3 linked regions of the Homo sapiens genome follow. The protein of the gene in region 1 binds, or shares a complex with, the protein of each later gene. Each region holds a gene or a part of one and is shown in the gene's direction. Other genes may lie near its edges.

Region 1 (7,812 bases):
GTGTCCAAAACAATGTTATAGTAAATTTCCAACTTGTTTCATCTAAGGTCAAGGAAAACAAATTATCTAAAGCACTGGATTATGTTTGAATACACTGCAACTAAAAGTTTACATCAAATAATCCCATGGAAAAATCTTTACTCTGCGCCTATGATGGGCCCTAAATCCAGTAAGGGCAATGTGGGGGAATAGCTGCACCTAGGAATCCATGCTACGTCTTACTTACTAATATTTTGAGAAAACTTTCAATATCAATAGCTTCCATTTTGAGAGAACTGTATTTTAACAAAATCTGTGAAAATAATGGTTTGGAATGATAATGAAAATCTCCTCAGCTTCTATAATGTGGACAACATGTGCTGGTTACTCTTTGGTTTCTAGCTTCAGTCAAAGTTCAAGGTCTTCTGCTATTTGTGGCTCAGATTCTTTCTTATGGGAGGCATGTCTGATAGATATACACCAATTTCATAAATAAATAAATAAACATAAAAGTATTTTATGTATGAGTGTATTGTGGGTGTACATATATGGCACTCTAGACAAGCCATGCTTTTCACTCACAACAATGCTTTAATAAATTACAGTTCTACTACAGTGGGAAGTAAAAGCCAACTGTTAACAGAAAAATCTAGCCAAAGAATAGCAAAGTGAGCTACAAAATTAATTCCAGAAGCCAAAGAACTAAATAAAGCTGGTTCACAAAACAAACAAAACCAACACATTTTCAATGAGCACTATTCGGTTTATCTATAAATGTTCATGTATTTAAAAAGTTGAGTGGTATGCCAACTTTCACTTATGACAACATTCTACATAAATACCTGATTCCCAAGAGAAATAATTCAGGTTTAAAGAGCTGTATACAAAAATAAGAGAAGCAAGAGCTACAATGAAATGAACAGAACTAAATTGCACGGGAGCCCTAAATGTGGGATGTGCTGAATACAGTGTACAGGAGACTCAAAATACACAAATTAAGCCTAAATATTCCCAATGTATTCAATATCTATGAAACAAGCAATAGAATTCCAATCAACACTTGCCACAAAAATTGCCATAAGCTGGTTGCTATTTTTTAAATGATGTAACAATGACAGATTTGTTGCCACATATTTTGTAACTTAGGAACACTGAGCTATTAAGTTTCTATTAGCGATGTTTTAACTGAGGATTTGGGCTAGAAGACTGAAATCTGTTTGTACAGCAGTGAAAACGAAGCCTCACTAAAGGCATTCAACTTCCAGCTAAAGGCTCCTTTCCTTGATGCGTATTTGTGACCATACATAGTGTTCACTAAATGCAGTAAACTAAACTAGCAACAGATTAGTTAAAAGCAGCTTAGATTTTCAACTTCCCATAATACAGGCAACATCTTTAGAAGCAATCACATTAAAATAAATGTGTCTTTCACAGTTACGGGATGAAATTGTAAGCTGGACAAGCACCCATGCCCTGGTTTTCTACTTTATTTGTAAACCATATGACTCTCACATGCTGAGAATGTTTTATGCTTTAACCTGCAGTAAAGGCTTTACATCATTTTAATGCCCAGTACTTAAAATGCAACAGAATCACCCCCAACAAATGCTGGGAATATATTTGGTTTACATGTAATGATTTTGATCCCACTAGTAGCCAGAAAAAGTTTAATGAATGCTTTTTCAAGTAAATAACTTTGCACTTCTATAGACAAAACAAAAAGAAATTTTGAGGTAAGGGTAGATGGAAGAGAAAACACTCGTGTTTTTCCAATTTAAAATATTAACAAACATGTTGGTTTTTTACTTCTAAAATAATTATTAAACATTTTTTAAAAAACTCCATGACTATTATAATATGCTTCAGAAAAATAAAACAAAACACTCCGTTAAGTAGTTACGTAGGATTTTTCTCTGGTTTTTGCAAAGTAGTGTTTCAAGTTAAGATACAAGCTTAAAACAAATGATTCTGAAAATCCTGGTCTATCACAAACTAATGGCTTAGTTTTGAATCAACATATTGTATATTCTACATCTGAGATTTAGAAATCACATTTTTTTTTCTATTCAGGTCAATTGAAATATACATGCTACCTCACTCTTTCAGTCCCCCTTATCTGTGTGAATGACCAACAGCAAAAATTTTAAATCAATGGTTAGAGGACATATCATAAAATTACACACTCTATCAATGTGGTTTTCAGTTATCATAGAATCTAAAGGTCCCTTACTGATGATAGGTGGCAGATTCAAGAATTGATAAGTTTGGGGAATATATTCAATTCTCAACAGTCGAAATAGAAATTATGCCAATTTCTTTACTTTAAAAATCCGTTACACTAAAAAAATTGTCACATAAGGATTATTGAAGAACTTAATAAGGAAGTACAAAATATGACCTTAAATTCTCCTAGTGTGTTATTAAATATTAAAAACTGTGAGAAATAAGAGATGTTGCAATCCTTTCCTTTTTAACTCTAATTGAAATTTGAAAAAAAATTTAGAATTCAAATTTCCCAACTTTGACTTAGAAACATAATTCAGCTAGATCAAGCAACTTAATTGCACAATTTTAAAATAAGTTTAATGCAAAGCACTGCAATCCTGATGTGATAATTACCTGCAGCATAAATGCAAAATAATAAATGCATTTAACGATGCATTTTATGGTAAAACCACAAAAAGCACAACCATATTAGCACAAACTAAATAAAAAGACACAGGCGGTATTATGTCCAACAGAAAGAGAAATGTTGTACGAAGCCAAGAAAGAAAGGAAGGACTTAAGGAAGGAAGGAAGGAGGGAGGATAGGAAGGAAGGAAGAGGGAAGCCAGAGGTTTCTGTACCTGCAGGATACCAGAGAAATGAGCTAGTCACATCACTCTACCTTATATGATACATGGGTGATTTTTTTTAAGCTTCAGCGTAAATAAAAACAGTAATCACTTTATACCATTCAACTTTACATAGTGTTATCTTTAATGCCAACTGCATTCTTCCCTTTACTCACCCAATGCTTCTTCACTGTTCCATTCCACCAGCTTTCAGGCAAATGCAAGACAGAACAGGGTGGAGTAGAAGAAAAATACAAGCAGCGCCTTTCGGCGCACCCCCTCTCCCGCAAATAATTTCCAACAGTTCCTCCTGCTACGAAAATAAGTCGCCCTATCTCCAGATACATAACAGACATTCCGTCTCCTTAGTAGACACACACAGACGCGTACACAATCCAGCACTCCCGACCCCCACCCCAGGCCCCCCGAATCTTCAGCAATTATTCATCTAATTCACACGAAGACAAGATACCTCTACCTACTGTTTCGGGGTGAAGGTGGGTGGAGGACGCCTTTCAAAGTAGCCCCAATAGTGTAACCAAAACACGGTTCCGGAATAAAATATTAAGAAACACTTTTCCTTTCCCACCTATCTACCGACTTGAGGATGCAAAAAATCCATCTCCACATCACACCATCTCTACAGTTCTCGTGGCTGGAGTTTGGGGTGGAGATTCGTCCAGGGGAGGGGGCGGAGGCGAGTGGCAGAGTGTGAGCGGGCGACGGGACACAAGCGAGTTGTTGAGCCCGGCCGCCTCGCACCACGTCGCCAGCCCAAACGCCCAGCACCAGGACCTCACGCCCGCCCCTCAGCCCAGGCCCAGAGCGAGCGAGGACTCGCGCTGTCTAACTTCCCATCTACAGACACCGCTCCAAGACGAGCAGAGCACACAAGTACACGTCACACAGTTTAAACACACTTACACACCCCAAACAAACCAACACACCTGCAAATCACCTCACAGTTTCCAGAACTCCACACCGGAGACCCCACCTCCAGGATTCAAACCTTCCGCTCATCGTAGAGGAAACCAGAAGAGTTGGGGGGCAGTCGACGCCTTTCCAGGACCGGACCCCACGAACTGCCCCACCCCACAGCCCGCGTCTGGGTCACCCACTCGGAAGCCCCCTGCTTCCTCCCTCCTCTCAATCCGGCCGCTTACGAGACCCATCCCCAGCGTCCGCTCACTTCCTCCCCAAAACCCCTCCAAAAAAATTGTTTTAAGTGAAGAGAAAGAAGTGAGGAAAGAGACTTGAGGTAGTCCGGCTTCAAAACCGCTCGACTCACCTCAGAATCCTCGCTGAGTTCTCTCCGCCCGGCACAGCCCCCTCCCCAACGTCCCAGTACGAAGGGCTGAGATAGGGAGGAGGGAAGGCGGGAGGGGGAGGGGTGTCTTCCGCGTGGGGCGCCCGTCGGGAGGGGACTGGGGAGGGGTTGAGGCCGGCGCAGGAAGAGGAGAAGGGGGAGGGGAGGCCCCTATCTCCCAGTCTCCCCCTGAAAAACCTCCCTTGTCTCAATCACATCAGACTGACTGTCTTTGTCTGGCTGACAACCGCCATATTGATATCAACAGCCCCTCTCCCACCTGCTGCCGCCGGGCGTCCCTGGGAGTTGTAGTTCCTGCCTCCCCTGAGAAAAATTGCGGAGCCCGGCGCCTAGAGGGCCAAGGGAACTACAACTTCCGGCAAGCCCCGTGCCCATCCGCCTTCCCTTTGGGAGGAGGGAAAGGGGAGTCGGAGCCGTCGGGACTACACATCCCAGAACACCATGGGCCCCAGGCCCGTAAGGAAGACATGATATCATGCTGGGGTGGAGAGGGAGGATGCATTGGCGGCTGGGATGAATTTGAGCTGACGGAAGGAGGCGTTCGGAGAGGAAAGGGAGGAAAAGGAAAGGCGACCACAGTTCCCATGATGCCTGGAGGGGAGACTACATTTCCCATTATTCCCCTGGAAGGGACGTGAGGATGAAAGACTGCAAGTCCCGCGATGCTCTCGGCTGGCAGGTGGCGGAGATTGCACCGGAAGACGCTTCCTGGGTTTGAGGAGTTCAGTGACTGCTATTGAACCACCAAAAGTCCATTATGAAACTGGTGAGTCTTCGCTCCTAGGTCAGAGGGCAAAGGTGATGCTATAACCTTTTGGACCTCTTTTTTTCCTACGTTGGGCAGGGAATCGTCGCACGGGAGGGGTAGCAATTATTGAGCTGGAAAGTGGAGTGGGCTAAGGAAAGCTGCTTTTTGTTGTTGAGAAGGTTTGAATTCCCTCTCCCCCACCCCATCCCTCCCAGGAGGTCTTTTTTCACTCGTTAGTGGGTCTTTTTGTTCAGACAAGAGGTTGACTGTCACAGTCCTTCGCCCATGAACTCTGTGGGCTCTGTTAACCAGGTTTGGACGTCCTGGTTCCCACGTGAGGGTTATAATAGGCTGTTAACAATCCGTTTCCATTCGATTGGCGCTTGAGTATCCTGTCTCCCTACTGTTGTTGAGACTGGCTAGATTTAAGCAGACAGTAAAAAACATCCAGCAGAACGTAATCACTTATTAAATATCCTGTTATATAGACTCCTCACTGCCCTTGGAATTCAGGACGAGGTCAGAGTGTGGAGAAGTTGAGTCTTAAACCCTGCATGGGATTTAGATGGGCAGAGAAGTGTTATATGGTATTCCATTCTAAGACTGTAGGGACTTCATGAGCCAAGGCTGAATGAAGCGTGCTCGGTATACCTGAAGTCTTAACATCACACAGCTCAAGCACCTGGTTCATGGAGGCTCCTCAGACCTTTGATTTGAGCCATTTGACTCATTGTGCACACAAGTCTAACTAGTTTATTCCAACTCGATTCAATTAGTTAATAACATAGTGTAGAAAGGCAGGTGTGAAACACTGTTTCTCAACCTTTTAAAACCCATATTTGTGCAGCCAAGTTATTGTCAAGCTTTACTTGAGGCAGGAGAATCGCTTGAACCCGGGAGGCAGAGGTTGCAGTAAGCCAAGATCGCGCCACTGCACTCCAGCCTTGCAACAGCGCGAGACTCTGTCTCAAAAAAAAAAAAAGTTTATTTTTTACCATTTATATAATTATCTGAACATGCTTTGCCAAACCACACAACACACCTACCCTCATCTTGATAATCATTGTGCTACAGGCATATATTCTGCAAAGCCAGCTGTTTTCTGCGAAGTCAGAGAAAGTATTAAAAGTGGATTCAATTCCGAAATTGTCCCCGTATAAATCTGTTTATATAAGGGGAAGGATGCGGGTCACTAAACCTTGAGAATAGCAACTTACCCCTGGGTCAGTGTGTTACACATTTAATAATGCAGAATTAAAAGTCATAGCCGTTGCCCTACAGAAGCATGCAACCTAAGAAGAAGATAGAAAAGTAAACCAAAGTTATTATTTATTTATTTAGAGACAGGGTCTGGCTTTGTGGGGCCCAGACTGAAGTGCAGTGGCGCGTTCTCAGCTCGCTGCTACCTCCACCTTTCGGACTCAAGCGATCCTCTCGCCGCGTCAGTCTCCCCATATAGCTGGGAATACAGGCGCGCACCACTGCACCCTGCTTATTTTTTTTGTAGAAATGGGGTTTAACCATGTTGCCCAGGCTGGTCTCAAACTCCTGGGTTCAAGGTATCTGCCCACCTCAACCTTCCAAAGTGCTGGAATTACAGGCATGAGCCACCATGCCTGGTCCGAAATTATAATTCACTGTGTTCATGGTGAAATAGAGGCGTGTTCAGGGTTTTGGGAATTCAGAGAACAGAGGATTGGGGAGGTCAGGGGACAGCTTCCTGGAAACGTGACTCTTGAACTGATAAGGATAAGTAAGCCAGGGCCTTCCATGAAAGAGGTCAGCTTATAGGAGCATAAGAGCTTGGTACCTTATTGGCTAAAGCATGGACCCTGTGTTCTCAATAAAGAGCAAATTATATTTAATGTGTTCAGTTTAAGAAGGCAGGGAAGTGTGAAATAGTTTTTCCCATAACAACTCATTAGTGAGGGTATCAAAAAGCCAGGGTTTACTTTACATATATTTTAGTTTGCTCATAAAATCCTCCTGCTTAATTTATTTAGAAATATGAAACCGGGGATTGTAAAAAAGTGGAAAATTATTTTTTCCATTAAGAACCAAAGATGTCTCAGAGGAAAAGGAAGTATTCTATTGATACTCATACTCCCTCTTTACTTTGCAACTATGTATTACATACTAAAATTTATTTGGTAGTTGATAGATAAATGTAATTGAGAATTCCCATCAACATACCAAAAGCATTGTTGCTCAGTAAGTTAGATGGGTGTGTCATGCCTCCCAAATGGTTGGAATAAGTCCTCCCATGGCCTAAAAGTTTTAATTTTGTGTACTGCTTCAGAAATATGTAATAGGCTGTGTTTTAAATTTATAATTATGAAACAAAAACACATTTTGTTTAGCATTTTCTCATTTTTGAGATTCACTTTCCAGAGTACCCTTCCCACACACAATCTATGACCACCTCTTATTGATTCTGCTTCCTAAATGCAGCTTTCTTAAATAGGTTCTATTTCTCTCCAGTCCAACTAGAATACTGTCTTTGTAATCGGAATTCAACAAGACCCCTTATCTGGTCTCTCTGCATTCAGTCTTAACCCTCTCAAATTCATTCTTTCCTCTGCATCCGGAAGTTGTTTTAATTGCAGAGTTCCATGAAACCCTCTCAGTATCTTCCTTTGCCCTTAGGATAACCTCCTACACTTAACTTGGTTGAATATGTTCCATTGCCTGCCTCACTCTTTTTTGCCTGGCTAATTTCTTCATATATTTCAGATCTCTGTCTAAATAACACTTCTTCAGGGCCTCGTTGAATTAAGTACCCCTGTTATATATTTGATGGCATACTTCCTATTTGTAGCACTTGTAATTATTGGCGTGTGTCTGTCCTCCCCCATGTAGATTCTGTGTAAATAATTGGTAAATAATTTCTGAAGGTTTATCAAGGTCTATGGATACCCTTGAGA
Region 2 (7,428 bases), on another chromosome or scaffold:
TCCTCCCATCTCGGCTTCCCAGAGTGCAGGGACTACCGGGGGACTACCGGCCTGAGCCACGGCTCCCGGCCATATGGGCCTGTTTCATTTTCTGCACAGCACTTCTCACTTTCTGACACGATCTTAATTACCTGTTTATTACCTTGTCCCTCCGCCCCCCCCCCCCCCCCCACTGGAATGCAGCTTATTCCCGTGTCTCTAACACACAGTAGATATTTACCGGGCAAAGTAACTAACCTAAGGCTCATGCACCCTCGCCCTGGGGAGTACATCGGGCCCCACCCTCCTCCAGGAAGCCTCCTCTGACCAAGCTGGGTTCCCAGACCCTGGGGCTGCCTCCCTCCCACCCCGAAGGCTTGGGGCCACACGGGATCCGTGGATCCCGCCTTAGATCGGGGGTGCCCGGAGGCACTTACACCGTGAGCTCCGTCACCTGCGGGCCGCAGACTCGCAGGCGCCCAGAGGCGAGGGCGCGGCGTCCCGGAGAGCTTCCTGGAAGCGGCGGCCTCTGCGAAAGCGGGCGCGGGCGAGGCTGCAGGCGGCGCGGGGCCTGCAGCGCGCTCTTGTGCGGTAACAATAATGGCAGCTGTCACCCGGCCGTGCGCCCCGTCCTCACGCCCCGGGCCGGCCCCTGCGCGGGGCCCCGAGGCTGCGGGCGACGGAGACGAGCCGAGGCCTCGCGGACGCCCGCCCGGCGTCGCCCCCTCGCCCGTTCTTACCGTGTCCAAGGCCGGCTCCCCGGTGCCCAGGAACATGGTGGCGGCGCTGCCCGGCCGCCCCTCAGGGTTGCTGGCTCGGGCGTCCGGGTCTGGGAATCCGCGGGCAGCCCTGGCCGCCCGCAGCCTCGGGGCCTTCCCTGGCGCCGGCCCGCGACCCCGCTGCCATGGCAACCAGGCCGCCGACCTACCCAGCCGGGTAAGCGACCTGCGTTCCCCCTGGGGCGACCATGCGCGTGCGCAGAGTCCGCGGGCGCCGGCCGGCCGACCAGGAGCGCTCCCGGAGTTCCCGGGGCGGAGCGCGGGGGCTGAGAGGGGGAAAAAAACCGGCCCGGCGCAGTGGCTCGCGTCTGTAATCCCAACACTATGGGAGCCTAAGGCAGGAGATTCAATTGAGCCCAGGAGTTTGATACCAGCCTGGGCAATGTAGCGAGACCCCGTCTCTCGAAAAATAAAATAAAAATAAAAGCCAGGCATGCTGGTGCACGCCTATAGTCCCAGCTCCTCGGGAGGCTGAGGTGGGAGGATCGCTTGGAGCCCAGGAGGTCGAGGCTGCAGTGAGCTATGATTGCACCACTACAGTCCAGCCTGGGCGACAGAGCAAGACCCTGTCTCAATCAAACAAACACACATAATAAACTTTCGTTTGCTTTCAGGGTCTCACCCAGGGCGCTTTGCTCTACGTGCTCCCTGTGCATAAGTACCTCTTGCCACTCTCCCACCCTTGGGCTTCGCAAACTTTTTGCCCTTCTCTTATCTAATTATAGAGCCAGCGCCTATCTACGACCTTTTATCTGTGATTCTGAATTCCACAAACTTCCGAAAGCCCTTCACAACTCATTTGAAGGCCAGACCAGTCCTAACCTCAACTCTCCGGGAGGAAAACTCTGAGCTGAGGCTATTTATAGTGCTTATTTATCCCACGGGGTGTACATGAGTGAGTTTCACTGAATAACTTCTTTTTTTTTTTTTTTTGACGGAGTCTTGCTCTGTGGCCCAGGCTGGAGTGCAGTGGTGCGATCTCCGCTCACTGCAACCTTTGCCTCCTGGGTTCAAGCGATTCTCCTGCCTCAGCTACCCGAGTAGCTGGGACTACAGGTGCGTGCCACCACGCCCAGCTAATTTTTGTATTTTTAGTAGAGACGGGTTTCACCACCTTGACAAGGATGGTCTCGCTCTCTTGATCTCGTGATCCGCCCGCCTCCACCTCCCAAAGTGCTGGGATTACAGGCGTGAGCCACTGCACCCGGCCCTGAATAACTATTAATACGTTTAATTATGGGGTGTGTGTCACACTCTGCTGTAATCTCATATTTAATGTACATGTGCCATGTCACATTTCTAAAATCTGAACAGTTCTGAATTCTGAAAAAACATTTGTCCCCAAAAGTTTGAGATAAGAAATTGTGGACCTGGGCCAGGCACGATGGTGGCTCACGCCTGTAATCCCAGCACTTTGGGAGTCTAGGGTGGGTGGATCACTTGAGGTCAGGAGTTTGAGACCAGCCTGACCAATATGGTGAAACTCTGTCTCTACTAAAAATACAAAAATTAGCCAGGGGTCGTGGGTGCCTGTAGTCTCAGCTACTCAGGAGGCTGAGACAGGAGAATTGCTTGAACCTGGGAGGTGGAGGTTGCAGTGAGCTGAGATCACACCACTGCACTCCAGCCTGGACATCAGAGCGAGACTCCACCTCAAAAAAAAAAAAAATTGTGGACCTGTGCAATACAATATTCAAATCTGGAGCCAGACTGCTTGGGTTCAAATCCAAACTGTGCCAATCCAGTAGCTGTAAGGCCTTATGAGTTAGCCTCTCTGTGCCTCATTTTCCTCATCTGATGGGCTGGTAGTGGTACTCTCCTACCGTTGCTGTAGAATCATACAAGTTTACAGTAAGTGAAGCACTTAGCACAGTGCTGTTGTTGAGTTTTCTTTACTCCACAATTACCTAACTGGGTGAATGTTAGTATCTCATTTCACAATGAGGAACCAAATTTCAGGGAAGATAACTGTGCATTTCAAACTTTTTCACACATGTAGTTCTAAGGATGTACGTGTGTGTGTGTGTGCAGGGGGCATGCAAGCGTCAGGGAAGTTGCTTTTCCAAGGTTACCCAGCACGGCTGGGCGCGTTGGCTCACGCTGGTAGTCCCAGCACTTTGGGAGGCCTAGGTGGGCGGATCACCTAAAGTCAGGAGTTCGAGACCAGCCTGGCCAACATGGTGAAACCCCGTCTCTACTAAAAATACAAAATTAGCTGGGCGTGGTGGCCCGCACCTGTAATCCCAGCTACTCGGGAGGCTGAGGCAGGAGAATCGCTTGAACCCAGGAGGTGGAGGTTGCAGTGAGTCAAGATTGAGCCATTGCACTCCAGTCTGGGCAAAAAGAGTGACACTCCGTCTCCATAAATAAATAAATAAAATAAAGGTGACCCAGCAAAGTCAGTGCTTTTAAATTTTTAAATTTTAATATCCATAGGAATTCTGCTTTGTTTCCTAAATCTGGTGTTGGCTCCCAACAATCTTGCTATAAAACAATGCTTTGGGAACATGAGCCTTGTCTATCCACTGGCTTTGAGACTCTCGAACACACAGTTAGTGTTTTGAACTCAATTTTTTGGACCTAGTTTTTCTGCCTGTTTGCTTTCTTAAAACACAGGGTCTTGCTCTGTTGCCCAGGCTGGAGTGCCGGGGCAGGATCATAGCTCACTGCAGCCTTGAACTTCTGGGCTCAAGCGATCCTCCCGCCTCAGCCTCTGGAGTAGCTGGGACCACAGGCGCATGCTACCAGGTCTGGCTGATTTTCTTTTTTTTTTTTTGAGACGGAGTCTCGCCCTGTAGCCCAGGCTGGAGTGCAGTGGCACCATCTTGGCTCACTGCAACTTCCGCCTCCCAGGTTCAAGAGATTCTCCTGCCTCAGTCTCCCGAGTACTTGGGATTACAGGCGCGCGCCTCCACGTCCGGCTAATTTTGATATCTTAGAGATACAAAAATTAGAGACGAGACGGGATTTCGCCATGTTGGCCAGGCTGGTCTCGAACTCCTGACCTCGTGATCCGCCCGCCTGGGCCTCCCAGAGCGCTGGGATTACAGGCGTGAGCCACCACGCCTGGCCTTTTTTTTTTTTTTTTTTTTTTTTTTTAAATTTTAAGAGATGGGGTCTCGCTTTGTTGCCTAGGCTGGTCTCAACTCCTGGCTTCAAGCAATCCTCCCAACTGCGCCTCCTAAAGGGCTGGAATTACAGGCATGAGCCACAGCGCGGCCGCGGAGGACTTAATTTGAGAACCTGAAGCTAAATGACCAAGGGCTTTGGTGCACGGATCAGGACGCTTCTCTCCGGCACATAGTTTTCTCGCTCCCGCCGGTGCAGACACTGGGCGCCCTGCAGGCGAAGCCCCGCCCCTCCGGACACAACCCCGCGCCTTCCTCAGAGATCCCCGCCCTCGAGACGCCCCGCCCACCCACCGGATGCTCGGCATGAACCACTAGGCGCCTGGCGGGGGTGATCTGTCGGAGCGACCGGCTTGGCGCCTGCCTGTCCCCAGCCCCTCTCAGCTTGAACTCCTTCCTTCAAGTCTGGGCCCTCGAGGCTTCCAGAGCGGCCTCCAGGGGTGCAGTCTCAGTTCCCCACGCCAGCCGTCTCCGTCCTCCGCCTCCTCCGGGCCTGGCAGGTGGCACTGTCCGGAGGCGGAGCCTTGGGCGAGGGGTGGTTGCGGCGGAGGACGCAACCGAGCGGTGAGGCGCGTGGGCCTTCGGGGGTCGAGGTCGTGGTAGTGGGGCGCGGGGAGGCCAAGACCCGGCCGAGGGGGGCGGGCGGGCCAGGGAGCAGCCCAGCCCGGGGCGTGCGCGACCTGGGCTCGCTTCCCAGCCCGACTGTGGCCGCCTGCTCTGGCGCCCCTTCTGGACTCTCGGGCCTGGCGCTCGCGGCCAAAACTGACTTCAAAGTGTGGGGAGGGTTCCTCTTCCCGGGACGCAGCCTTCCCGGGCATTGGCAGACGGTGCCCCGGTTAGACAGAGCCGCTGACCACCCCGCCCACCCCCGAGGCTGGACGCACGGATGCACACCTGGTCCTGGGAGAGACAGGCGCCCCTTCCTTTCCGCACCCCGCCGCCCCCCTCTCCCCCCCGCCGGCTTCAGATGCAGCCACCACTAATCCTGGGAGGGACAGACACACGGACAGGTGCCCCTTCCCCTCCTCACCCTCCTACTGGCTGCAGAACAGCAAATGCAGCCACCACTGACCCTGAGAGGGACAGACACACGGACAGGCGCCCCTTCCCCTCCGCACCCCCCTGCTGGCTTCAGGACGTCAAATGCAGCCACCACTTGACGCTGGGAGGGACAGAAACTTTCCAGCCCAGGCTGGCCCTGGGGCATGGGTAGACATCCCCTTGCACACATGGCTGACCCCGGAACTCAAAGATGCCCCTGACTCTGGCCCACCTGCAGCCTGGGCCAGCACCACGCTGTTGCCCCGACTGCACCAAAGACCAAGGGTGACAGACTTTGAGTTCCGGAGGCCTTGTGGTTTCAGCTAGACCCTCATCTGCCCCTTTCAGCCCCGCCACCAGCGCTCAGGGCCCCACCTAGACCAAAGCTTTGCATCCATCCCTGCAGTACAGACCTCTGGTCTGGGGATCATGGTTCTCCTGGTCTGAGATGAAAGTTCTGGGGCCCCTTCCCAGGCCTGAGCAGGCATGGTGGGCTGCTGTGACTAGAGCGAGCTGGGTCTGGAGTGGGCATTGAGGTTTGGCTCTCACATTGCCTTTGCAGGGCCTGCGGCCTCACCATGGACCCAGAATGCGCCCAGCTGCTCCCGGCTCTCTGTGCTGTTCTGGTAGATCCCAGGCAGCCGGTGGCAGATGACACCTGTTTGGAGAAGCTCCTGGACTGGTTTAAAACGGTCACTGAAGGAGGTAAGGAGGTGGTGCTGCTGTTTACTGCCTATCCAGAGACCAGACGCAGAGGCTGGGACAGGGAGCAGGGGCCAGATGGGGACTCCCCTGTCCTGGAGGAAGGGCAGAAACTGCCAATCAGATGTCTTTCCTTCACTTCCTAAGGATTATCTGTGGCAGACTGAGGGCAAGTTAAGATGAAGCCCGAGAGAATGATCTGGAGAGTTAGAGCCTGAAATTCAGCCAGTTGAGCCACGATCAGGGCACCCCAAGGTTCAGTTCTACAGAAGGCGTGAACAAACTTGTTTTATTGTTGTTCTCGTTGTATTTAGTGTGTTTAAGACATCAGATTTGTTTTCTTTCTGATTATGAAAGTAGGGGCCGGATGCAGTGGCTCATACCTGTAATCCCAGCACTTTGGGAGGCTGAGGCGAGCGGATTGCTTAAGTCCAGGAGTTCAAGACCAGCCTGGTCCAACATAGCGAGACGTCATCTCTAAAAAAAAAAAAAACAAAAATTAGCTGTGCCTGGTGGCGCACCTGTAGTCCCAGCTACTCTGGAGGCTGAGATGGGAGGATCCTTTGAGTCCGGGAGGTAGAGGTTGCAGTGAGCTATGATTGTGCCACTGCACCCTGACCTGGGTGATAGAGTGAGACCCTGTCTCAAAAAAAAAAAACAAAGTAATACATGTTCTTTAAAACATGAACAAAAGAGTAAAGAGGAAAATTAAACCATCAACGTTTTAATTTACTCCCAGCCTTTTCATAACACATAAAGCTGTATTTTTCTGGGGAAAAAAAAATGAGGTCATACTGTAAACACAATTTTGGTGTCTTGCTTTCTCTCTTGCTATCATAGTGAGTGTTTTCTCCACATAATATGTTAATGTTATTGACTACATGTTATTTGCTGTAGGAATAGACCATAATTAATTGAATCACTCCACTGTCAGATGTTTATATTTCTCATTTTTCATCATTTTAAGTAGTGTCATAGGTCAGGCGCGGTGACTCATGCTTGTAATCCCATCACTTTGGGAGGCCAAGGCGGGTAGGTCACTTGAAGTCAGGAGTTCGAAACCAGCCTGGCCAACATGGTGAGACCTCGTCTCTACTAAAAATAAAAAAATTAGCCGGGCATGGTGGCATGCGCCGTAATCCCAGCTACTTGGGAGACTGAGGGGGAGGATCGCTTGAACCCAGGAAGCGGAGGTTGCAGTGAGCCCAGATCGTGCCACTGCACTCCAGCGACAGAATGGACTCTGTCTCAAAAAAATAGTGTCAGTCGAGCGCGGTGGCTCAAGCCTGTAATCCCAGCACTTTGGGAGACCGAGGCAGGCAGATCACGAGGTCTGGAGATCAAGACCCTCCTGGCTAACATGGTGAAACCCCGTCTCTACTAAAAATACAAAAAAAAAAAAAATAGCCAGACGTGGTGGTGGGCGCCTGTAGTCCCAGTTACTTGGGAGGCTGGGCAGGAGAATGGCGTGAACACAGGAGGCAGAGCTTGCAGTGAGCCGAGATCACGCCACTGCACTGCAGCCTGGGCGACAGAGCGAGATTCCGTCTCAAAAAAAAAAAAATAGTGTCATAATGGCTTTCCTTTTACATAAATATTCTCGCATGTAAATGTTTATTCTCATGGTTGATAATTGCATTGGGATAGACTGCATGTTGTTAATTTCTGCTATTCTTTACTTCCTTTTTTTGGTTTACCGTGTTCTTTTATTCTTTTTATTTTTAAATTATATTGTATTTTTTTTTTTAAGGATGGGGTCTCACCGTATTGCCCAAGCTGTTTTCGATCTCCTGGGCTCA
Region 3 (7,386 bases), on another chromosome or scaffold:
GGGCTTTTTTTGCAATCATTCAACTACACACTGGATCCTTTCCATCATGGAAGGAGCAGTGATTTGTCCTCACAGGAATAGATTCATATTCCAAATTCAGATTTGACTTCCCTGCCTGCAATATTTCTGCCAGCTCCATCATCTATGGATGCCTCATTCATTATCATAGTACTCCACACATTGCTTCTGATTAAGGAGCTTATTTTATGCTGAGAAAATTGTAGTGAAGAAACTTCTTGGTCTTGCCAGGAACCCCATCATTCAGATGTAGGTGCTATAATAAAGCAGAATAATAACCTTTTGGAGATTCAGTTATAGCGCTAGTCAAGAGCCAACACATTGTGAGTTTGGGCCGCTGTTTGTGGCATATGCCTTATACCAACAGCTAAAATATAGTACTGCTTCTCCCACAGTTAGAACATGGGTCTGGTTATCAAAGGGTGGAGATAGGAGCAGTTCCTCTCTCTTTTACACCTAATAATTCATTTATGAATTCTTGGGCTCAGTAGGTTTGGAAGACTTACTCCCCAAGGGAGGAACAGTTGCCCTAGAGAACATAGTCATTGTTCATTACATTGGACATGTAATGAGACTGTCCCCAGACCACTGGGGCTCTTGTTCTGAACCAGCAGGTAGAGAAGAAGTTACTAAGTTGGGCTGCTGTTATGCAAGAGAGAGAGAAGACTGAAGCCTCACGGATTCATTCACAGGTGAACCTTAATGTATTTTCATAAGTAATAATAAAAGTCAAAGGAAAATGGCATCAATACAATAAAGACGGTTTTTCAATTCAACATTAAAGAATGTGTGTTCTTGTTTCTATACCAATCTGGCTCATTGAGAAGTTGGCTATACCAACTTCTCAAATTTATTTATTTATAATTTAAAAAAAATTTATATAGCCAGGCGTGGTGGCTCATGCCTGTAATCCCAGCACTTTGGGAGGCCGAGGTGGGCAGATCACTTGAGGTCAGGAGTTTGAGACCAGCCTCGGCAACATGGTGAGACCCTGTCTCTACTAAAAATGCAAAAAGATTAGCTGGGTGTGGTGGCGCATGCCTGTAATCTCAGCTACTCATGAGGCTGAGGCAGGAGAATCGCTTGAACCTCAGAGATCGAGGCTACAGGGAGCCACGATTGTGCCACTGCACTGCAGCCTGGGTGACAGAGATAAACTCCATATAAATTTTTTTTTTTTAAAATATAGAGACAGGGTCTCTTTCTGTTGCACTGACTGGTCTGGAACTCCTGAGCTCAAGGGATCCTCCCACCTACCACCTCCCAAAGTACTGGGATTACAGGCATGAGGCACCATGCCTGGCCTCAACTTTATTTTTATTGCTTCTTCTGTTCCCTGCATGCACTTAACTTTCAACATGAACTGAAGTTCCTTTGGTTTTCGGAATGCACCAAACTCCTTCCTAAAGCCATTTATTTATTTATTTATTTATTTATTTATTATTTTGAGACAGGGTCTCATTCTGTCACCCAGGCTGGAGTGCAGTGGTGCGATCTCAGCTACTGCAATCTCTGCCAAGCGGGCTCAAGCAATCTTCCTACCTCAGCCTCCCGAGTAGCTGGCACTACAGGCATATGCCACCACGCCCAGCTAATTTTTTGTATTTTTGGTAGAGATAGGTTTTCACCATGTTGCCCAGGCTGGTCTCCAACTCCTGAGCTCAAGCTATCCTCTCACCTTGGTCTTCCAAAGTGCTGGGATTACAGGTGTGAGCCACCGCACCTGGCCGCCATGTATTTAATAACGATGATAATACTCTGTATCATTGATGCTATGATGCACATTTAATGTCTCCGAAATCAGGAGATGTTGGCCAATCGCTCATATGTATACTGAGTCGTAGCAGTTCATGGTGTCATCGCTTCGACTGAGCTCTGTGCAATTTTGGAATTACATGTGTTATTTTAAATTACTATTAAATATATCTCCAAATAGATTACCCTATAATTTGGCATTAAAAAGTTCTTATGTGCACAGGAAGACATGGAAACAGCAGTGCGAGGTAAGATACAAATCTATGTCTAAATAAGTTAAAAAGAGCTGTTTCTGTAAGTATACATAACAAATCTAAGCAATTAGAAACCATTGTATTTAATTTCAGCATTTCTTTTCTTAACATAATAAATAAAATATTGATTTTACAATTGCTGGCAGCTTAGATTTGATAGAATATGATAATGGTAATAATAGCAGCTAAGCTTTATTAAAGGTACTGTTTGCTAAATGTTTTTCATTTCCCTTGACATATTTGTATATCTTATCTCGGCGGTCTGGGATGCCTTTGTTTCTGGAAAAACTCATTCTTTTAAAGCTGCATTAGAAATAGTTTCCTTTTTTTTTCTTTTTTTTTTCTTGAGACAGAGTCTCGCTCTGTTGCTCAGGCTGGAGTACAGAGGCCCGATCTCGGCGCACTGCAGCCGCTGCCACCTGGGTTCAAACGATTCTCCTGCTTCAGCCTCCCGTGTAGCTAGGATTACAGTCACCCACCCCGACGCCCGGCTAGTTTTTGTATTTTTAGGAGAGACGGGGTTTCACCATGTTGGCCAGGCTGGTCTCGAACTCCCGACCTCAGGTGATCCGCCTGCCTCGGCCTCCCAAAGTGTTGGGATTATAGGGGTGAGCCACCGCGCCCAGCCTTTTTTTTTTTTTTTTTTTTTTTTGGAGACAGGGTCTCACTCCGTTGCCCAGGCTGGAGTGCAGTGGCTGGATCTCGGCTCACTGCAACCTCCACATCCCAGGCCCAAGCGATTTTCCCGCCTCAGCCTCCAGAGTAGCTGGGACTTCAGGCGTGGGCCACCATCATGCCCAGCTAAATTTTGTATTTTTAAAGTAGATTTCGCCATGTTGCCCAGGCTGGTCTCAAAACTTCTGAACTAGGTGATCTGCCCGCCTCGGCCTCTCAAAGTGCTGGGATTATAGGCGTGAGCCACCACTCCCAGTTTCCTCTAATTTTAGGAAAGCCTTCCCTGAGGCACTCTGAAGAAATTAGGTCTGTTTGAACCACATTCATTCCCGTTACCCAGCACATTTCAGTTGCACTGTCACCATCAGTTTGGGTGTCTGTCTTCTCAGATTGTAGGACCTTGAGGATAAATACTATCTTTTGTTTATTTTTGGGTCCTCTGTATCCACCTCAGCCTCCTGCTTTTTTTTTTTTAAACTATCCCACATTAATTCTTTTTTTTTTTTTTTGATAACGGAGTCTCGCTCAGTCGCCCAGGCTGGAGTGCAGTGGCGCGATCTCGGCTCACTGCAACCTCCGCTTCCCATGTTCAAGTGATTCTTCTGCCTCAACCTCCCAAGAAACTGGGATTACAGGCGTGTGCCACCATGCCCCGACTAATTTTTGTATTTTTAGTAGAGACGGGGTTTCCCCATGTTGGCCAGGCTGGTCTCGAACTCCTGACCTCAAGTGATCCATCCGCCTCGGCCTGCCAAAGTATTGGGATTACAGGCATGAGCCACCGCGCCTGGCCCACATTCTTTTGAAAGACCAAAATAATGAACAGCTAGTTTCATGTAGGTTGTAAAACTTGACCTTGGATTTACTGACACTAACATGTGCACTACACCTTACAGTCCGTAAAATGTTCCTGCATTATTTCACTCCATTGTCACATCTTTGTCAGGTTAGTTATTATAAATGCATTTGTAGTTGAGCCATTTGCTCAAGAACCAGAGCTGTAGTCTGTAGCTTTGTTGCTTTATCCTTGGTCTCAGAAGTCTTCTACTGTACTATAGCTATCAGAGCAGGGATTGATGCCTTAAAGGATGGCAGCTTTTGCAAAACTGGAATAAGGAAGTATGGAAAGGCACCCCAAAACAAGAGAGGTGGCGCACAGCTTGAACAAAGGCAGTGCTCAGGAAACCTACAAACAGCATCGTGTACAGCAAAGGATGATGGGAAAGTCAGCCGAGCCTCTGAGTTTTTTCACGAGTCGTAAACCCCTTACAGAGCTCCGGGTTTTGCCTCTAGCTCTGGAGCACCCCGCCTCTGCCCTTTAACCTGTACTTCCTCCCTCCCTCCCTTCGCGCCGCGCCGCGCTAGTCTCTTAGCCACTCCGAGGCCACCAACCAGCCTCCCAAAGCTCCCATTGGGTTGCCCACCCTTTCAGTCTCAGCTCCTCCCGCCAGAGGCCCCGCCTCCCACAAGCGAAGCTCTTATTTCCGTTCTTCCGGCGTAGGCCGCCAAATCAGTCCGTACAGTGGCGAGGCAGTCGAGCAACAGGAAGCGGTCGCTCTTTCCCCAAATCCCACTGCCTTGTGGGATCTCGGCAAGTCATCCACCCACCCCCCGCGCCTACGCAAGTTTTCCGGATCCGTCCACCCCCGCCTCCCTCCTAGTGTACGGAAGCTGAGAGGGCCCGCGGGTAGGCATGGCGGCGCACCTTAAGAAGCGGGTTTATGAGGAATTCACGAAAGTGGTTCAGGTAAGCTCTGGCGGGAAAGATCCAGAACCGATCCGGACCAGGGTAGATTATCCAAATCCCAGGCACTTTGCCGGAACAGAAGAGGCTCCATACGCCCGTGTTAAGTGCTGACTTGTTGATAATCTCTGATATTGCAAGTTAGTGGGCGTGTTAGTTTGCAGCCGCTGTTGTCATTAATATGTGAAGTCTGACAGGATTTTAAAAAAATTATTAGGAGAAACAGTGTTTTTTAATTTACGAAACTGTCTTATCCGTTATTTCATTTTATTCTCTCACACAACTTTGCTCCATCGCGTTACATTAGCATCCTCGTTTTCCAGATGTGGACATTGAGCCTTCCGGAGGGGTACGAGGATACAGCCAGTTAGCAGCAGAGCCCCTTCTAGCCTCCCCGCACCCCCGTTCCAAAAAAAAACCTCCCAGGGACCAGTTGGAATATACACAAGGTTCTAAGGGGCTGAAAGAAGGGTCTATAGAATTCCTTCAGGCGCAGTCTAAGCAGGCGGGGGTCACAGACTTCATAGGGGAAGAGCTCTCTATTGGTAGAACAGCTCACCTAGGAAGGAGGGCAGTACCTTCCTCACCATGAAGTTGTGACAGGTGGGCAGAGTCCCTGTCGGGAGTCAGTGATGCTCCATGTGTCTCCACGTAGATGTTGCTAGGGTTGATCCTAAATCATCCTGATGTCCTATTTCTCAGATATTAATGTGTATACAAATTACCTGGGGACGTTGTTCAAATGTCGATTCTATTTGATAAGTCAAGCAGAGGAGGTGAGGCAAGATTCTGCATTCCTGACATGCCCCCAAATTTACACCAGTGCATTGGTTGCATTCTTAGATCCTTAGACTTGTAGAGTGGCAAGGCTTAGAGCATCCAGCAGGATACTGATCCTTAAACATTACATGGATTCATTCATCCAGCATTAAAATATGTTAATACAAATACAAAATATGTCAATACATAATATAAAATTTACAATTTTAACAATTTTAAGTATAAAGTTCAGTGGCATTAAGAACATTAGCACTGTTGCACAATGTGATTTCCTCTCTTCCCAACATTCTGTTGTTCCCATTTCCCAAGACTGCTCAGCCCTCTTCCACCCATCCTCACATGACCAGATATGCCATGTGTTCTTGTGTTTGCATATCTCAAAACTCTTGCACTGGTTGTCTCTTCTCACAGAATACATGCCATTCTTCCCTTTCTTTTTGTTCTCCACCCAGTGGACTTAACATTTGTGCTTCAAGACCCAAATGAAACCTCAGCGAGAGCTTAGTCTCTTCTTCACCTGTTTCTGTAGCATTCTGTGGTACTAATCTATTTGTACTTTTTGTTCAGTGCTGCTGTCATTACCGGTGTACCTATCTTCCCACCAGTCGGAGGTCCTTGATGGCAGAGCTAATGCCTGGCTCATCTCCGTGTCCTGGAGATGGACAATAGGGCCTGGCTCACTAAAGTGTTATTGGTGGTTGAATGACAGTTGATATTGCTTGTCCTCTCCCTTATATAATACTTAGGGAAAAAATTCCTAGCTTTTGACCTAACTACAGCTTCGATAAGACTGAAAACTGAGTTTGAGAGGACTAGGATAGAAATGGCTAAGAATTTTAAGGGAAGAGCTAATTTCTTCACTTAATTTTTCATCAGTTGTTAACATAAAGTGATTAAATGAGATCTTAGTGCTTCTGTTCTTTTTTCTCCGCTGAAAAGATGAGGAGGGAGAACTGATATGTGCCTAGCACTTACATATACGTATAATAAAGTTATGTTTAATAACAGATTTATCGACTAGCTCTGTGATAATAAAGTATTGGTATGCCCTCCTATAGAAGAAGGCCTTCCCCAGCTAGTAAGTTGTAATTGAATACAAATTCCTCTGACTCCAAAGTCCTTATTCTTTTTATCATGTCATACTGTGTTCTTGTCTAGAATAATTCTACTCTCTTTTCTATAGAAATGTGAATTTGTAAGGAGGTGATTGCTCAGTACATAAAAACGCACCATTAGGTGGTAAGGAAATTTATTTTATTTTATTATTATTTTTTAACAGAGACAGGATTTCACCATGTTGCCCAGGCTGGTCTCGAACTCCTGGGCTCAAGGGATCCTCCTGCCTCAGCCTCCCAAAGTGCTAGGATTTCAGGTGTAAGCCACTACGCCCATCGGATATTTGTTTCCTTTTCTTCTGTTTTGAGATGGAGTTTCGCTCTTTTCGCCCAAACTGGTGTGCAGTTGCGCAATCCTAGCTCACTGCAACTTCTGCCTCCTGGGTTCACGCAATCCTCAGCCTCCTGCATAGCTGGGACTGCAGGCATACACCACCACCCCCAGCTAATTTTTGTGTTTTTAGTAGAGATGGGGTTTTGCCATGTTGGCCAGGCTGGTCTTGAACTCCTGGCCTCAAGTGATCCGCCTGCCTAAGCCTCTCAAAGTGCTGGGATTACAGGCATGAGCCACCATGCCATGTCTGATATTTGTTTTCTAATAAAGAATGGACTTTGGGAGACTGAAGCAGAGGGATCACTTGAGGCCAGAAGTTCGAAACCAGCCTGGGTAACATGGCAAAACCTGTCTCTACTAGAAATACAAAAATTAGCCATGTGTGGTGGCACACACCTGTAATTCCAGCTAGTTGGGAGTCAGGGAGGTGAATCGCTTGAACGTAGTAGGTGGAGGTGGCACACACCTATAATCCCAGCATGTTGGGTGTCAGTCAGAGAATCATTTGAACCTAGGAGGTGGAGATTGCAGCAAGCCAAGATTGCACCATTGCACTCCTGCCTGGGCGACAGTGTCTTGCTCTGTCTCAAAAAAATGGAGTAGATCCTTTGTGTGACCTCTAAACCCAAAGGCTACCACAATCCTCAGAGATAGGTAGAGCAAAATGTTAGTGTAAGGCTGGGCACCGTGGCTCATGCTTGTAATCCCAGC

The links. Proteins that work in one complex are often made in the same cells at the same time.
Region 2: the proteins of INTS9 (region 1) and BRAT1 are in contact, whole or in part, in a cryo-EM structure (PDB 8UIB), measured with the Homo sapiens proteins. Residues at the interface, in NP_060720.2 of Homo sapiens: Gly276, Met277, Gly279, Glu280, Cys282, Ser283, Asn284, Ala286, Leu287, Arg290, Asn291, Tyr315, Asp317, Ser318, Ala319, Gly320, Ser483, His484; in NP_689956.2 of Homo sapiens: Ala406, Pro407, Cys416, Pro460, Gln506, Lys507, Arg508, Cys510, His511, Pro512, Arg517, Glu545, Leu549, Gln552, Asp556, Pro557.
Region 3: the proteins of INTS9 (region 1) and INTS4 are in contact, whole or in part, in a cryo-EM structure (PDB 8RC4), measured with the Homo sapiens proteins. Residues at the interface, in NP_060720.2 of Homo sapiens: Lys2 (codon at 4,901), Tyr4, Lys18, Ser21, Thr22, Leu43, Val44, Gln45, Glu87, Glu89, Leu90, Asp92, Asp97, Thr122, Glu145, Arg146, Val147, Pro148, Lys159, Glu174, Ser176, Thr177, Ser192, Gln195, Phe206, Gly207, Ile379, His380, Ser384, Asn385; in NP_291025.3 of Homo sapiens: Leu53, Gln54, Leu57, Gln58, Arg61, Lys62, Pro86, Ser87, Leu90, Lys91, Ser94, Gln125, Gln129, Asp132, His164, Gln207, Asp208, Pro209, Arg210, Arg212, Asp244, Tyr245, Glu246, Gln247, Trp296, Phe837, Gly840, Leu841, Val842, Val843.

The regions. Positions count from the first base shown.
Region 1 is NC_000008.11:28,886,968-28,894,779, reverse strand, and holds the start of INTS9 (integrator complex subunit 9), read left to right. Parts: upstream 1-4,810; 5' UTR 4,811-4,897; coding exon 4,898-4,906; exon of another isoform or gene 4,907-4,938; intron 4,939-7,812. UniProt on the Homo sapiens protein: Component of the integrator complex, a multiprotein complex that terminates RNA polymerase II (Pol II) transcription in the promoter-proximal region of genes.
Region 2 is NC_000007.14:2,552,509-2,559,936, reverse strand, and holds the start of BRAT1 (integrator complex assembly factor BRAT1), read left to right. Parts: upstream 1-4,412; 5' UTR 4,413-4,450; exon of another isoform or gene 4,451-4,896; intron 4,897-5,489; 5' UTR 5,490-5,505; coding exon 5,506-5,632; intron 5,633-7,428. UniProt on the Homo sapiens protein: Component of a multiprotein complex required for the assembly of the RNA endonuclease module of the integrator complex.
Region 3 is NC_000011.10:77,991,653-77,999,038, reverse strand, and holds the start of INTS4 (integrator complex subunit 4), read left to right. Parts: upstream 1-4,370; 5' UTR 4,371-4,395; coding exon 4,396-4,449; intron 4,450-7,386. UniProt on the Homo sapiens protein: Component of the integrator complex, a multiprotein complex that terminates RNA polymerase II (Pol II) transcription in the promoter-proximal region of genes.